Linked DNA regions of Homo sapiens. The protein of the gene in region 2 purifies or fractionates together with the protein of the main gene of each other region. This does not show direct contact. Each region holds a gene or a part of one and is shown on either strand. Other genes may lie near its edges.

The links.
Region 1: the proteins of NPM2 (region 2) and MTG2 purify together in Homo sapiens (affinity purification with mass spectrometry; 2 studies listed by BioGRID and IntAct, with this or other methods). This does not show direct contact.

The regions. Positions count from the first base shown.
Region 1 is NC_000020.11:62,199,422-62,204,919, reverse strand, and holds the end of MTG2 (mitochondrial ribosome-associated GTPase 2), read right to left. Parts: intron 4,238-5,498; coding exon 3,843-4,237; 3' UTR 1,837-3,842; coding exon of another isoform or gene 1,679-1,836; 3' UTR 1,352-1,678; downstream 1-1,351. UniProt on the Homo sapiens protein: Plays a role in the regulation of the mitochondrial ribosome assembly and of translational activity. Displays GTPase activity. Involved in the ribosome maturation process.
Region 2 is NC_000008.11:22,019,078-22,027,952, reverse strand, and holds the start of NPM2 (nucleoplasmin-2), read right to left. Parts: upstream 3,820-8,875; 5' UTR 3,330-3,819; intron 3,230-3,329; 5' UTR 3,123-3,229; exon of another isoform or gene 2,738-3,122; 5' UTR 2,705-2,737; coding exon 2,647-2,704; intron 2,518-2,646; coding exon 2,432-2,517; intron 2,307-2,431; coding exon 2,181-2,306; intron 1-2,180. UniProt on the Homo sapiens protein: Core histones chaperone involved in chromatin reprogramming, specially during fertilization and early embryonic development. Probably involved in sperm DNA decondensation during fertilization.

The DNA of each region.
Region 1 (5,498 bases), on a different chromosome or scaffold from region 2:
GGGACTACAGGTATGGGCCACCACCCCTAGCTAATTTTTACATATTTTTTAGTAGAGATGGGGTTTCACCATGTTGGCCAGGCTGGTCCTAAACTCCTGACCCCAGGTGATCCGGCCGCCTCGGCCTCCCACAGCGCTAGATGACAGGTGTAAGCCCCCATGCTCGGCCAACTTCTGTTAAGTCACCCGGTTTGTGGCACTTTGTCATAGCAGCCCCAGGAGACTAATAAGGAATAGATAAAACTTCATTTTCAAATGGACACACTACGTTTTCCTACAGCGCTGCTGTGGAGCTGGGCTTCTACAGGGGATGCTCAGGGCAAACCCCTCCTCGCCCGTGTCCAAGTGGAAGGTGGCAGGGCCCCAGGGCACCCAGACTCCACCCCACCTGGGCTGCGGCAGGAGAACTGCTTGAACCCAGGAGTCGGAGGTTGCAGTGAGTGGAGATCGCGCCACTGCACTCCAGCCTGGGTGACAGAGTGAGACTCCATCTCTCTCTCTCTCTCTCTCTCTCTCTCTCTCTCTCTCACACACACACACACACACACACACACACACACACACACACACACACACACACACTGAGTTTCAGGCCAGGCGCAGTGGCTCATGCCGGTAATCCCGGCACTTTGGGAGGCCAAAGTGGGCAGATCACCTGAGGTCAGGGGTTCGAGACCAGCCTGGCCAACATGGTGAAACCTTGTCTCTACTAAAAATACAAAAATCAGCCAGGCGTGGTGGTGCAGGCTGTAATCCCAGCTACTTGGGAGGCTAAGGCAGGAGAATCGCTTGAACCCAGGAGGCAGAGGTTGCAGTGAGCCGAGATCGCACCACTGCACTCTAGCCTGGGCGAAAGAGTGAGACTCTGTCTTAAAAAAATAAAAACAAAAGTAAAAATAGTTTAAAACTAGGAGCAGCCTGAAGGCTCCTCATGCCAGCGCCATCCTCCGTGCACCTGCCAGCGCTTACTGACGCCGTCTCTGGGTCAGGTGTTCTGAGGCTGCTGGGGATACACAGAGACCCTGTGTCCAAGGCAGCCCACACATGCTGACTGTGGGGGGGTTGGCCTGCACCCGCGGTCCCTTCCGTAACTAAAGACTGCGGTGTCGGCCGCCTCAGGCATGGCTACTAAAGACCCGCACAGACGGCCACATAGTGTACACTCCAATTACAGGATCTGTCTGGAAGGCAGGTCCCTGGGGACAGAAGGTAGACGGGTGGGTGCCCGGGGGAGGGGGAAGGCGGGTTCACGCTAACGGGCACAGGGTCTGTTTTCGGGGTGATGAAAACGTTCTGGAATTTGCAGTTTGACAGTTGCACAACCTTCTGAACATACAAAAAAACCACTGAATTATATAAAGTGGTGAATTTTATGGTATGTGAATCATATATCCCATTTGAAAAGCAGACTGACAAAAATTTGTTTCTAGGCAGGAAACAGGAAACTGGGGAAGCCAAGTGTAGCTTTACCCTACTCAGGGAGAACAGTGTTGGAGAGAAAGCTGTCAGCTTTTAGAACGCGATGGCAAAAGCTGTGTGTGTGGCAGGGAGAAGTCTTGGGGCTTTTTGCAGCAAGGAAAGTTCTGGGCAACCTTCGTGGCAGTGACTCCCCCTCTGGAGCCTCAGCTTCAGCAAAGGACGAGGGCATGTCCCCAGAGCAGCCACAGTCAGGCCCAGATCAAGGTTTCAACCCACGGGGAGGCTGGGCTGGGGGCTCCGTGCAGGGGTCGAGCCACAAGGCATCTTGAGCCTCCCCTGCAAGAGCATCAAGATGAAAGCCAGGGATAATTAACGCCGTCAGGCCTGGGGCGACTCCACAAAATCCTTTGTGGCGGCCTGAAAGAAAAAGCAAATAGATGCAAAACCCATCTCTGGTTTCTAGGATAGAAGGACCTTTGAAATTATAAGACATTAAAATAAAGCTTCGGGTAAAAGGACTGTCATGTTCTAGCTGCAGATTTGATGTGAGATCAAAACGGAATTGCTCCTGAAAGCCCAGGCACCGGCCTGCTGTGCAAAGCGCGCCCCACCCCAGCGTGCAGAGACGCGGCCCCGGACCCTTGCGGCTCATCTCACCTGAGGCTGCCGTCTCTCCTCCAAGGGCTGGGGGTCCCCTTCTGATCATCCTTCTCTGCTTCTTTGTCCCCTCCACTTTTTTTTTTTTTTTGAGATGGAGTCTTGCTCTGTCGCTCAGGCTGGAGTGCAGTGGTGTGATCTCGGCTCACTGCAAGCTCCGCCTCCCAGGTTCACGCCATTCTCCTGCTTCAGCCTCCCGAGTAGCTGGGACTACAGGTGACCGCCACCACGCCTGGCTAATTTTTTTGTATTTTTAGTAGAGACGGGGTTTCACTGTGTTAGCCAGGATGGTCTCAATCTCCTGACCTTGTGATCCACCAGCCTCGGCCTCCCAAAGTGCTGGGACTACAGGCATGAGCCACCGTGCCCAGAATGTTCTGTTTTTGTTTGTTTGTTTGTTTGTTTTTTGAGACAGGGTCTCGCTCTGTCACTCAGGCTGGAGTGCAGTGGTGCAATCACGGCTCACTGCAGCCTTGACCTCCCAGGCTCACATGATCCTCCCACGACAGCCTCTGGAGTGTCCCCTCCACTTTCTTTCTTAGGGGCCCCTCAGGGACATGTCAGAGGCCTGAGACTACTTGGGGGATGTCTATGGGCCAGGCAGGCTGCCAGCAGCTGAGCTGTCCTTGCCCTGGGGCTCCTCTGCAGTCAGGGAGACACCAGGCATGGGCCTGGCTTGGATGCATCAGTACTTGACTGCAAAGACTTAAACCACAGACAGGAAAGGCGCTGCTGCAGTCTCGACGGTCAAATGCAGGGCCCCCTCAGCTGCCATCCCACTGAGGGGCGAAGGCCCATCATCTCCCTTCGGCTCGGTAACTGCCTGGCGTAGCACAAGGGTTCTCTTTAAATCCCCAGCAAATGGAGCTGAGTGGAAATTCCGCCCCATATTACCAGGCACACGTCTCCTTCCACTCCTCACTATACCCTGCCCATGCCACGGCCGCCTTCTGAGAATAACGCTGACAGTTCCATGGCCCACAGCCCCTCTAGTTAACTTGCTGTGCACACGGCAGCCCAGCCAGAAACACGCAGCCAGGTCGGATATTGGGTGCATTCAGTCGTGAAGCCTGAGGCTTCCTGGCTCCCACTGAGCACAGAGAAGTGTTCTGAAGGACAGGAAGCAGCTGGCCTCACTGCTCTTCTCAGACGGCTGATGGAGAAAAGCTCACAGCTGCCTGCGCCGCTCTGCCTGGACTTGCATCCTCGGCCCCACCCCTTGCGCAGCAGTGAGGCCCCCCGAGACACTGGTGCCTGGGCTTGCGGTACCGCAGGGCTGCTGGACAACGGGCCAGACGCAGCCCCAGTGTGGATCCAGAGGTCTCTCTCCGTAGCAAGCCATGGAAGCACGACGGGCACTGTGCTGAGAACCCTGGTCTGCACTTCTGACCTGGGGCTCTGGCTGTGCGGTTCTGCTGAGCTCATCCGAGAGTCCACGCGTGCATGGCGGAGACCTGAGTCAGCGGCAGGGCCACCCCGTTATGGGCACCCCAACCCCTTATTAGGGGTGTTAATCAGCACAAATGAGCAACTGGCTCATCAGTCGGTGCAGGCTGACAGGTGCAGGAAATACGGAGGGCAGGCGGGGTAGGGGGCACGGAATGCTTCCCAACATGAGGGCATCTCAGGCCAGCAGGCGGGGCCCAGAGACCCAGAAGCACCACAACTCCCCCGTGTCCACAAGGCACTTTATGCATTCAAAACCACCGAATTCACACCCAGGTTTGCTCAGACAGAGGCCCAGAGGCGACCCCGCTCTGGCGTGGCTACCACCTGAGCGGCTGGCGGCCCTGGCCCAGCTCGGCCTCCGCGTAGGCGTCATACAGCACCTTCAGGTGCAACAGCAGCTGCTCCAGGTTCTCGCCGGTCAACGCCGACAGCACGATGACCTCCTGTCCCAAGTGATCCCGGAGCTGGGACAGATTGGCTTGGGCTTCAGGGAGGTCAATCTTGTTTGCGACGATTGCGTGGGGCCTCGCAGACAGGCCCTTTTCATACATCTCCAGTTCATATTTTAAATCGTCAACTTGAGTCCACGGCTCAGGCTGAGAAAGATCCACCACGAACAAGAGAAAGCGGCAGCGCTCGATGTGCCTGAGGAAGGCGGACCCCAGACCCCTGTTCTGGTGGGCGCCTCGTATGATGCCGGGGATGTCGGCCACTGCAGGGAAGACAGGGGCACACGAGGTGACCACTTGGCACACCCAGCACCCAAGAGCGCCTTCCACCTCGAGCCTGGGAGAGAAGGCCTGGAGCCCACTGCGAAGGCGGATTTCCTGAGTTCTAACACTTTCCTTTCAAGGAACGCCTTGAACTGAAGCCATTTGATTTAGCACCTGGGTGATTCACTGGGCCAACTGACACCTGAGGAATTCAATGCTTGGAGATGTTTGGGAGACCAGCGTGGCGATGGATCTATCTAGTAGAGTACATTTCATACCTTCTCTTTCTGCTTCTAATAGGATTCAAAAAAGAGGAAAATGGCTGCCTGTACTCTACTAATCATTTGATTACTGATAGAAATTTACATGTAGAGTACTCTGCAGATATAAAGTGCCATCCAAATAACCTTACCAGCAGGCTTACTATTTTTAATGGGTGTATTGTCTTCTGGGAAAAAGTTTTATTCTCTCAAACGGCACAAGGAAAGCTTTTAAGTCACGTGTTGTGATGCTGCTGAGCTTCCACAGATGAGAGGGGACAAATAGAGTGGGAAGAAATACTGTCCTCGGCTGGAATTTCAATGCAGGTTTCTGAACTGTAACTGACAGATTCCTAGGGGATGGGGTGGGAACCTGATTTTCATAGAGAACAGGCTGATGAAAATTGTTTAAATTAGGGCCAGGTGCAGTAGCTCACGCCTGTAATCCCAACACTTTGGGAGACCAAGGTGGGGCGGGGGGCAGATCACTTGAGATCAGGAGTTCGAGACCAGCCTGGCCAACATGGTGAAACCCCGTCTCTACTAAAAATACAAAAAAATTAACTGGGCGTGGTGGCGCACGCCTGTAATCCCAGCTACTTGGGAGGCTGAGGCAGGAGAATCACTTAAATATGGGAGGTGGAGGTTGCAGTGAGCTGAGATCGCACCACTGCACTCCAGCCAGGGTGACAGAGTGAGACTCCGTCTCAAAAAAAAAAAAAAAAAAAAGTTGTTTACATTAGGAAAAACAATGCTACTTTTTTTTTTTTTTTTTTGAGATGGAGTTTCGCTCTGTCGCCCAGGCTGGAGTGCAGTGGCATGATCTCGGCTCACTGCAAGCTTTGCCTTCTGGGTTCATGCCATTCTCCATCCTCAGCCTCCCAAGTAGCTGGGACTACAGGTGCCCGCCACCACACCCAGCTAATTTTTTTGTATTTTTAGTAGAGACGGGGTTTCACCATGTTAGCCAGGATGGTGTCGATCTCCTGACCTCGTGATC
Region 2 (8,875 bases):
AGGACTGCTGGTAGATCAGATATGGGTGTGGGAAAAAAGAGGATTTGGCTGGGTGTGGTGGCTCATGCCTGTAAATCCAGCACTTTGGGAGGCCAAGGCGGGTATATCACCTGAGGTCAGGAGTTCGAGACCAGCCTGACCAACATGGCAAAAACCCATCTCTACTAAAATTACAAAAATTAGCCTGGCGTAGTGGAACATGCCTGTAATCCCAGCTACTTGGGAGGCTGAGATGGGAGAATCACTCGAACATGGGATGCGGAGGTTGCAGTGAGCCGAGAGCGCACCATTGCACTCCAGCCTGGGTGATAAGAGTGAAACTCCATCTCAGGGGAAAAAAAAAAAAAAAGAGCTTTGTCTTGGCTAACTGGAAAAACAGCTGTTTTCTGAGAGAAAATCAGGTTGAAGGGGAGGCGGGTGGATTAGAGATAAAAATTGAATATGTGGATTTAGACATGTTAAATTTGGGATATTTATTAGATATCTATCAAAGCCATTTAGTTGGATATAGGACTTGGAGCTCAAGAGAGGTTGAGTTTACAGAAATAAGTTCCTGAGTCTTCATTTGTTTAGATGGTCTTGAAAACCACAGGAAAGGATGAGATCGCCTGCAAAGTATGTGTAAATAGAACAGGAAAGTCTGAGGGCAGTTTGACAGAGGGGTCTCCCAAACCTCCAAGGACAGCTGATCCTAGTCTTCCATTCACTGTTCCAGGGAATAGGAGAGAACCCTCCACCCTCAGTGCATGAGGCTAGCATGTCCTGAACACCTAAATACTATCACTTATAGGCCAACCTCACATGTATACAGGTAAAAAAAAGGGCTCAATATATGAGTAAAACAAATCTAGAATTTGTAACATGACCAGTAGTATTTATCCCAGGATGGCAAAGGAACTCAGATATTATTATCTTCATATAATTTACCACGTGGACTAAAGAACCTAGAATCATATGAATAGAAAAGCATTTGGTAAAATTTAACCCCCTCTAGTGATTTCAAAGCAAAGCAATTTTTTAAAAGCAGAGGGTTTTAGATGGGGACTTCCTTAACCTGACAAAATGTACTTACCAAATGCTTCTTTTTTAAAAAACAAGAAGGAAATAAGGATGTCAGACCTGATCTCATGTTCACCCAATATTCCACTGCAGGGCCTAGCCAGTGCAGTAGGATTAAAAGAAAGAAAGAAAGAAAAAAGACCTGGCGTGGTGACTCACGCCTGTAATCCCAGCACTTCGGGAGGCCAAGGCGGGCGAATCACCTGAGGTCAGGAGTTCGAGACTAGCCTGGGCAACATTGTGAAACCCTGTCTCTACTAAAAATACAAAAATTAGCCAGGCATGGTGGTGCACACCTGTAATCCCAGCTACTCCGAAGGCTGAGGCACTAGAATTGCTTGAACCTGGGAGGCAGAAATTGCAGTGAGCTGAGATTGCACCACTGCACTCCAGCCTGGGTGACAGAGTGAAACTCCATCTCAAAAAAAAAAAAAAAAAAGGCAAGAACTGCCATTATTCACAATTATTATATGCATAGAAAACTTAAGTTATTAGAAACTAGAGAATTTCTGGATGCACAACCAATATGTAGATCGACCATGTTCCTGTCACTAGCAGTGAATGGTTTAAAGCAGCAGTCTCCAATCATTGTGGAACCAGGGAATGGTTTCCTGGAAGACAATTTTTGCATGGATGGGGTGGGAGTGGGGGGTGGTTTTGGGATGAAACTGCTCCACCTCAGATCAGGCATTCGATTCTCATAAGAAGCATGCAACCTAGACCCCTCGCACGCACAGCTTACCATAGGGTTCATGCTCCTCTGAGAATCTAATGCCGCTCTGATCTGACGGGAGGCAGGGCTCAGGGGTAATGCTGGCTAGCTGGCTGCTCACCTCCTGCTGTGCTGCCTGGTTCCTAACAGGACGAGTTCTGGTCCTTGACCCGGCAGTTGGGGACCCCTGGTTTAAAGTGTAATTTTTGCAGACAGCTTAACTGGCCCAAGGTCACACAGCTCTAGGAAGGGGTGAGCTGGGCTGGACCCCGGCTTTCTGCATGGGCTGTGCTACCTCCCTAGCATGGCTCATTTCTGTAGGGTGAATGCACCCTCGTGTGTGTCCATCCCCACCCAAGGGTGAGGGTGAGGCTGACAGCAGTCTTCCAGCCAGCAGGGAAATGCGCACCATGGGGAGGACTGAGGCCTGGAGTGAGGCAATGGTGACCGGCTGCATCTTCTTGTCCTCCTGGTTTGCTGGGGGCAGGATCTCCACGCGATGCATCTCCTCTTTGGCTTTCTCCCCCAAGCAAATCTGAGCGGGGTTGAAAATAGAGGCCCCTCATCACCCTGAGGGCCGACGGGAGAAATCCATAGCCCTCCGTTGGGACCAGAAAGTTCCCGGACACCATCTTCCTCCCCTCTTTTGGGAACACCTACCGTATGAAGCAACAGCCTGCAGCTCTGCTTCCCCTCCAGCTGGGGTCTGAAGGTCCAAGTCCGCCTCTCCTGACTGAGCTCGCAGCCTGCGGAGGAGAAAGGGAGGGAAGTGGGGCCCTCCATTCGTTCCCAAAGGAGGGGCTCACCTGCGCCCCAAGCTGCCGCGCACCGGAGGTGGGGCGTGTCTCTGGGAAGGAGCCTGAGTCCCCACTCACCCCAGAGCACGGTCGTCACTGCCTTTTCCTCCGTGCTACTGGCGCTACTGAGATTCATGGCTCCGGGCAGAGAAGCGGGCTGGCCGGGCAGCTGCAAGGAGGGCGCCCGCGTGAGGCCTTGCTCCCTGACCCTGACCCTCGACTGGAGGATGCCAGAGACCAGCAGGCATCGGCAGGTACTGAGGGGTCGCTCGCGGCTGGAGGGGACCTGCCACGGTCAAGGGCTCACCGGCAACTCCTGGAGGACGAGTACCCACCTCCTAGCGGGGTGCGCAGCCCGGGGCTCGACCGGGCGCGTACAGGACAGCGGGACTCACGGGAGAGGGAGCTGTCCACCGAGCTCAGGCTTGAAAGGCCGCGGGGAGGTCACCTGGCTGCGCTTGGGCCTGACTCAAAAGCCTCTGTGCACCTCCACCAGACGCAGAGAAAGGGGTGTGCGCGCGGCTTAGGTCCCAGCTCCCCCCACACAGCCTTACTGTCGCTGCTCCGCGCGGGGCCAGTCACGCCATCGGCGCTCCCGGAGCGCAGCGCAACCTCATCCCCTCTGGCCGGAAGGCGGCTGTCCAAGCCCGGGCTAAGAAGCCTGGGAAGGGGAAGGGCAGGTGTCCAATTAGTCGCAAAGAAGCCGCCTCCCTCTCCCCTTCCCTTCTCCCATTCTTTCCTCCTCTGCGCGGCAGAATCACCTGGAGGGCTGTTAAGGGGCGCATTGCCGCGCCCCACTCCACAGCTGCCCTTGGCGTCGGTCTGGGTGGGGCCGAGGGAATTTGTAGTTCTAACCAGTTCCCAGGTGAGGCTGATGATGCCGGCCCAGGACCTTTCGTGAGAAGCTGTCCCGGCCAATTGCGGACCCGCCGAGGCCTCCTGGCGCCCCCTCCCCAGCCCATGGAGAGGAAGCCTCAGCTCAGCTTAGGAAGGGAGGCCTGCAGCCGGCAGGAAGCTGCAGTTGGAAGCCCTCCTTCTTGTTCGTTGCCTTTCTTCCTTTCCTTTCCCCATGCCTTATACAGCATGGGCCTTTCCTAAGGCCCAGACAGCCCGTTCTTCCAGCCTACCGTGAGAGCGAGCGAGCCCTGTCTCCAGAACGGTGAGATCTCCCGCGGAGAGCCGCAGCGGGCAGGTGGGGTGGGGAGGTGAGCCGGGAGGCGAGGCGCCGCGGCAGGGGGCGGGGAGCACACTGAGGAGCACGGCTAGCGACGCTACAGGGCCAAGCACGTGACCAGCAGCTGGTCCCAGGCTCAGTGGGCAGTGAAGAGGAAGTGGGGTTTCAGCGGATATACCCTGGAGACACCTCAGATAACCAGGGATCTCCCGCACACCCCTGGGACAGGGGCTCATTGCCACGGAGAGGTCAGAATCTTTTATTCCTGGAAGCTGGGGTCAGCCTCCCTGTGAATTGGCCAGGACAACCCAGGAGAGGCTTGGGGGCCTGCCAGGGCCCCCTAGGCTCCCTATCCCCAGCTGAGCAGTTCCAGTCTCCTTGGCTGTCCCTGAGCTCTCTGTCCCTGGCAAGGCGCCTATTGAAGGTGACAGCCATTGCAGCCAAGTGTGTGGTAAAGATGAGCAAATGGCAGGCACATGCATGCCATGCACAGACGTTCAAGAATTCACTCAACAAACGGTGATTCCGCCAATTGGGCGGGACCTGGGCATCCCGCGGTGAATACGACAGCCCCTCAAAGGGCTTCCAGCCTCATTGGAGAGCAGTGCTCAAAGCAAACCGGCCTTCAGTGGCCCCAGGCTACCCACCCCGTGAATAATCACACTGATGTCAGGCTGCAGCTGGGGGTCACAGTGAAGGCTAAATGGAGGCAGGGGAGGGGGATGACCCTGAGGTCATGACCTAGAGCTGGGACACTGGAACTGGACAGTCTGGGTTCAAGTCTGGACTGTGCTCTGTGATTTCAGGTGTGTTAATTCATAGCTCAGTGCCTCAGTTTCCTCATCTGCTAAATGAGGCTATAATATTGGTACCATCGTCATTAACTTTTTAAACTGATACATATTAATTGTACATATTTATGGGGTACATATGATATTTTTATACTTGCACACAATGTGTAATGAGCAAATCAGGGTAACTGGGGTACCTTCAACATTATTTCTTTTCTTTTTTTTTTTTTTTTGGAGATGGCGTTTCACTCTCATCACCCAGGCTGGAGTGCGGTGGTGCCATCTCAGCTCACTATAACCTCTGCCTCCCATGTTCAAGCGATTCTCCTGCCTCAGCCTCCCAAGTAGCTGGGTTTATAGGTGCTTACCACCATGCCCAGCTAATTTTCATATTTTTACTAGAGATGGGGTTTCACCATGTTGGCCAGGTTGGTCTCGAACTCCTGACCTCAGTGATCCTCCTGCCTAGGCCTCCCAAAGTGCTGGGATTACAGGCATGAGCCACTGGGCCCGGCTAAACATTTATCATTTCTTTGTGTTGGAAACATTTCAAATCTTCTCTTCTAGCTATTTTGAAATATACAATAAATTATTGTTAACTATAGTCACCCTACTGTACTATCAACTTATTTCTTATTTCAACTTATCTTATTTCCATCAAACAGTATGTTTGTACCCATTAATCAACCTCTGTTCATCCTCCCCCCACCCCCACTTCCCAGCCTCTAGTAACCATCATTCTACTCTCTACTCCCATTAATTCTACTTTTTTTTTTTTTTTTTTTTTTTTTTTTTTTTTTTTTTTAGCTCTCACATGAGTGAGAACATGTGAAATTTGTCTTTTTGTGTCTGGCTTGTTTCACATAACATAATGACCTCCAGTTCCACCCATATTGCTGCAAATGACAGGGCTTCCATATTTTTTTTATGGCTGGATATATTCCATTGTGTATAGGTACCACATTTTCTTTTTCCATTCACCTGTTGATGGACACTTAGGTTGATTCCATATCTTGGCTCTTGGAATAGTGCTGCAGTAAACAAGGGCGTGCAGATATCCCTCCTTTCATTTGGATACTGATTTCCATTACGGAGAGAAGTAAGGAGATTTCTCAAAAAACTAAAAATAGGACTACCATATGATCCAGCAATCCCACTCCTGGATTATTTATCCAAAGGAAAGGAAATCAGGTACCGATTCCCTAGGAATCAGGATTTCTAGGGTTATTTATCCCAGTAGTGGAACTGTTTGAATCATGTGATAGTTCAATTTTTAGTTTTTTGAGAAACCTCCATACTACTTTCCATAATGGCTGTATTAACTTAATTCCCAACAACAGTGTATGAGTTCCCTTTTCTGCACATCCTCGCCAGCATTTGTCTTTTTGATAACAGCCATTCTAACTGAGGTGAGATGATATCTCATTGTGGTTTTGATTTGCATTTCTCTGATGATTAGTGATGTTGAGCTTTTTTTTTTTTTTTTTTTTTTTTTTTTTTTTTTTTTTTTGAGACGGAGTCCCGCTCTGTCACCAGGCTGGAGAGCAGTGGTATGATCTTGACTCACTGCAACCTCTGCTTCATGGGTTCAAGCAATTCTGCCTCAGCCTCCCGAGTAGCTGTGACTACAGGTGCTTGCCACCATGCCCAGCTAATTTTTGTATTTTTAGTAGGGACTGGGTTTCACCCTGTTGGCCAGGATGGTCTCGATCTCTTGACCTTGTGATCCGCCCACCTCAGCCTCCCAAAGTGTTGGGACTACAGGTGTGAGCCACTGCACCCAGCTGAGCATTTTTTCGTATGCCTGTTGGCCATTTGTTTTCTTTTGAGAAATGTCTATTCATGTCCTTTGCCCACTTAATATTATGTTTGTTTTTTGCTGTTGAGTCATTTGTATTCCTTGTATATTCTGGATATTAGTCCCTTGTTAGATGAATAATTTGCAAATATTTTCTCCCATTCTGCAGGTTGTCTCTTAACTCTGTTGACTGTTTCTTTGCGGTGCAGACGTTTTTGGTTTAATATAGTCTTATTTGTCTATTTTTGTTTTTGTTGCCTGTGCTTTTGAAGTCTTAGCCATAAAATCTTTGCCTAGACCCATGTCCTGAAGCATTTCCCCTAGGATTTCTTCTAGTAGTTTTATAGTTTCAGGCCTTATGTTTAAGTCTTTAATCCATTTTGAATTGATTTTTGTATGTGATGACAGATGGGGTCTACTTTTCTTCTTCTTATCAATATCCAGTTTTCCCAGCACCATTTATTAAAGAAGATGTCCTTTTCCCAGTGTATGTTCTTGGTGCCTTTGTCAAAAAATCAGTTTGTGGTAAGTACATAGATTTATTTCTGGGTTCTCCATTTTTTTCCATTGGTCTGTGTCTGTTTTTATACCAATACCATGCTGTTTTGTTACTATAGCTTTGTAGTGTATAATATTTATATTTATATTTGGGGCAGGGTCTTGCTCTATGTCCCAGGTTGGAGTACAGTAGCAATTTCAGCTCACTGCAGCCTCCACCTCCTGGACTCAAGTGATTCTCCCACCTCAGCCTCTGAAGTAGCTGGGACTATAGGTGTGTGCCATAATGCCTGGCTACTATTTTTTTTTTGGTAGAGATGGGGTTTCTCCATGTTGTCCAGGCTGGTCTCAAACTCCTCTGCTCAAGTGATCCACCCACGTTGGCCTCCAAAAGTGTTGGGATTACAGGCATGTGCTTGCCCACCCTGTAGTATATTTCGAACTCAGGTAGGGTGATGCCTCCAGCTCTATTCTTTTTGCTTAGTATTGCTTTGGCTATTTGGAGTCTTTTGTGATTCTATACAAATTTTAGGATTGTTTTTTCTGTTTCTGTGAAGAGTGTCGTTGCTATTTTGATAGGGATTGCGCTGAATCTGTAGATTGCTTTGGGTAGTATGGCCTTTTAAATTTAATTTTATTTTTATTTCTTATTTTAAAAATTTATTTATTTATTTTTCAGGCAGGGTCTCGCTCTGTTGCCCAGGCTGGAGTGCAGAGGCACAATCATAGCTCACTGTAACCTTGAACTCCTGGGCTCAAGCAATCCTCCTGCCTCAGCCTCCTGAGTAGCTGGGACTGCAAGGTGTGTACCACCATGCCTGGCTAATTTTTAAAATTTTTTTGTTGTGTCTCGTTATGTTGCTCAGGCTTGTCTTGAACTCCTAGGCTCAAGTGATCCTCCCTCCTAGGCCTCCCACAGTGCTGGGATTATAGGCACGAATCATCGTGCCTAGCCGTAGTATGGCCATTTTAACAATATTAATTTTTCCAATCCATGAGCATGGGATGTCTTTCCACTTTTTTGTGACCTTTCCAATTTCCTTCATCAGTGTTTTGTAGTTTTTGTTGTAGAGGTCCTTCACTTCCTTGGCTAACTTTTATTCCTTGGGACTTTATTTTTTGTAGCTCTTGTAAATGGGATCACTTTCTTGATTTCTTTTCTATTTTATTATTGGTGTATAGAAATGCTACTGATTTTCATATGTTGATTTTTGTATCTTGCAACTTCACTGAATTTGTTTATCAGTTCTAGGAGTTTTTTCAGTGGATTGTTTAGGCTTTTCTATACATAAGATCATGTCTGCAAAGAGAGACAATTTGACTTCTTCTTTTCCAATTTCTTTTTATTTTATTGTTTTGTTTTATTTGTTTATTTATTTATTTATTTTCTGAGATGGAATTTTGCTCTTGTTGCCCAGGCTGGAGTGCAATGGCACGATCTCGGCTCACCACAATCTCCACCTCCCGGGCTCAAGCAATTCTCCTGCCTCAGCCTCCGGAGTAGCTGGGATTACAGGCATGTGCCACCACACCTGGCTAATTTTGTATTTTTAGGAGAGATGGGGTTTCTCCATGCTGGTCAGGCTGGTCTTGAACTCCTGACCTAAGGTGATCCACCTGCCTCAGCCTCCCAGAGTGCTGGGTTACAGGCGTAAGCCACCGCACCCGGCCTATTTATTTATTTATTTTTGAGGCAGAGTGTCACTCTGTTGCCCAGGTTGGAGTGCAGTGACGCGATCTCTGCTCACTGCAAGCTCCGCCTCCTGGGTTCACGCCATTCTCCTGCCTCAGGCTCCCGGGTAGCTGGGACTGCAGCCGCCTGCCATGGCGCCCAGCCATTTTTTTTTGGATTTTTAGCAGAGACGGGGTTTCACCGTGTTAGCCAGGATGGTCTCGATCTCCTGACCTCGTGATCTGCCCACCTCGGCCTCCCAAAGTGCTGGGATTACAGGTGTGAGCCACCGTGCCCGGCCTATTGTTTTATTTTGTTTTGAGACAGAGTCTTACTCTGATGCCCAGGCTGGAGTGCAGGGGCGTGATCTTGGC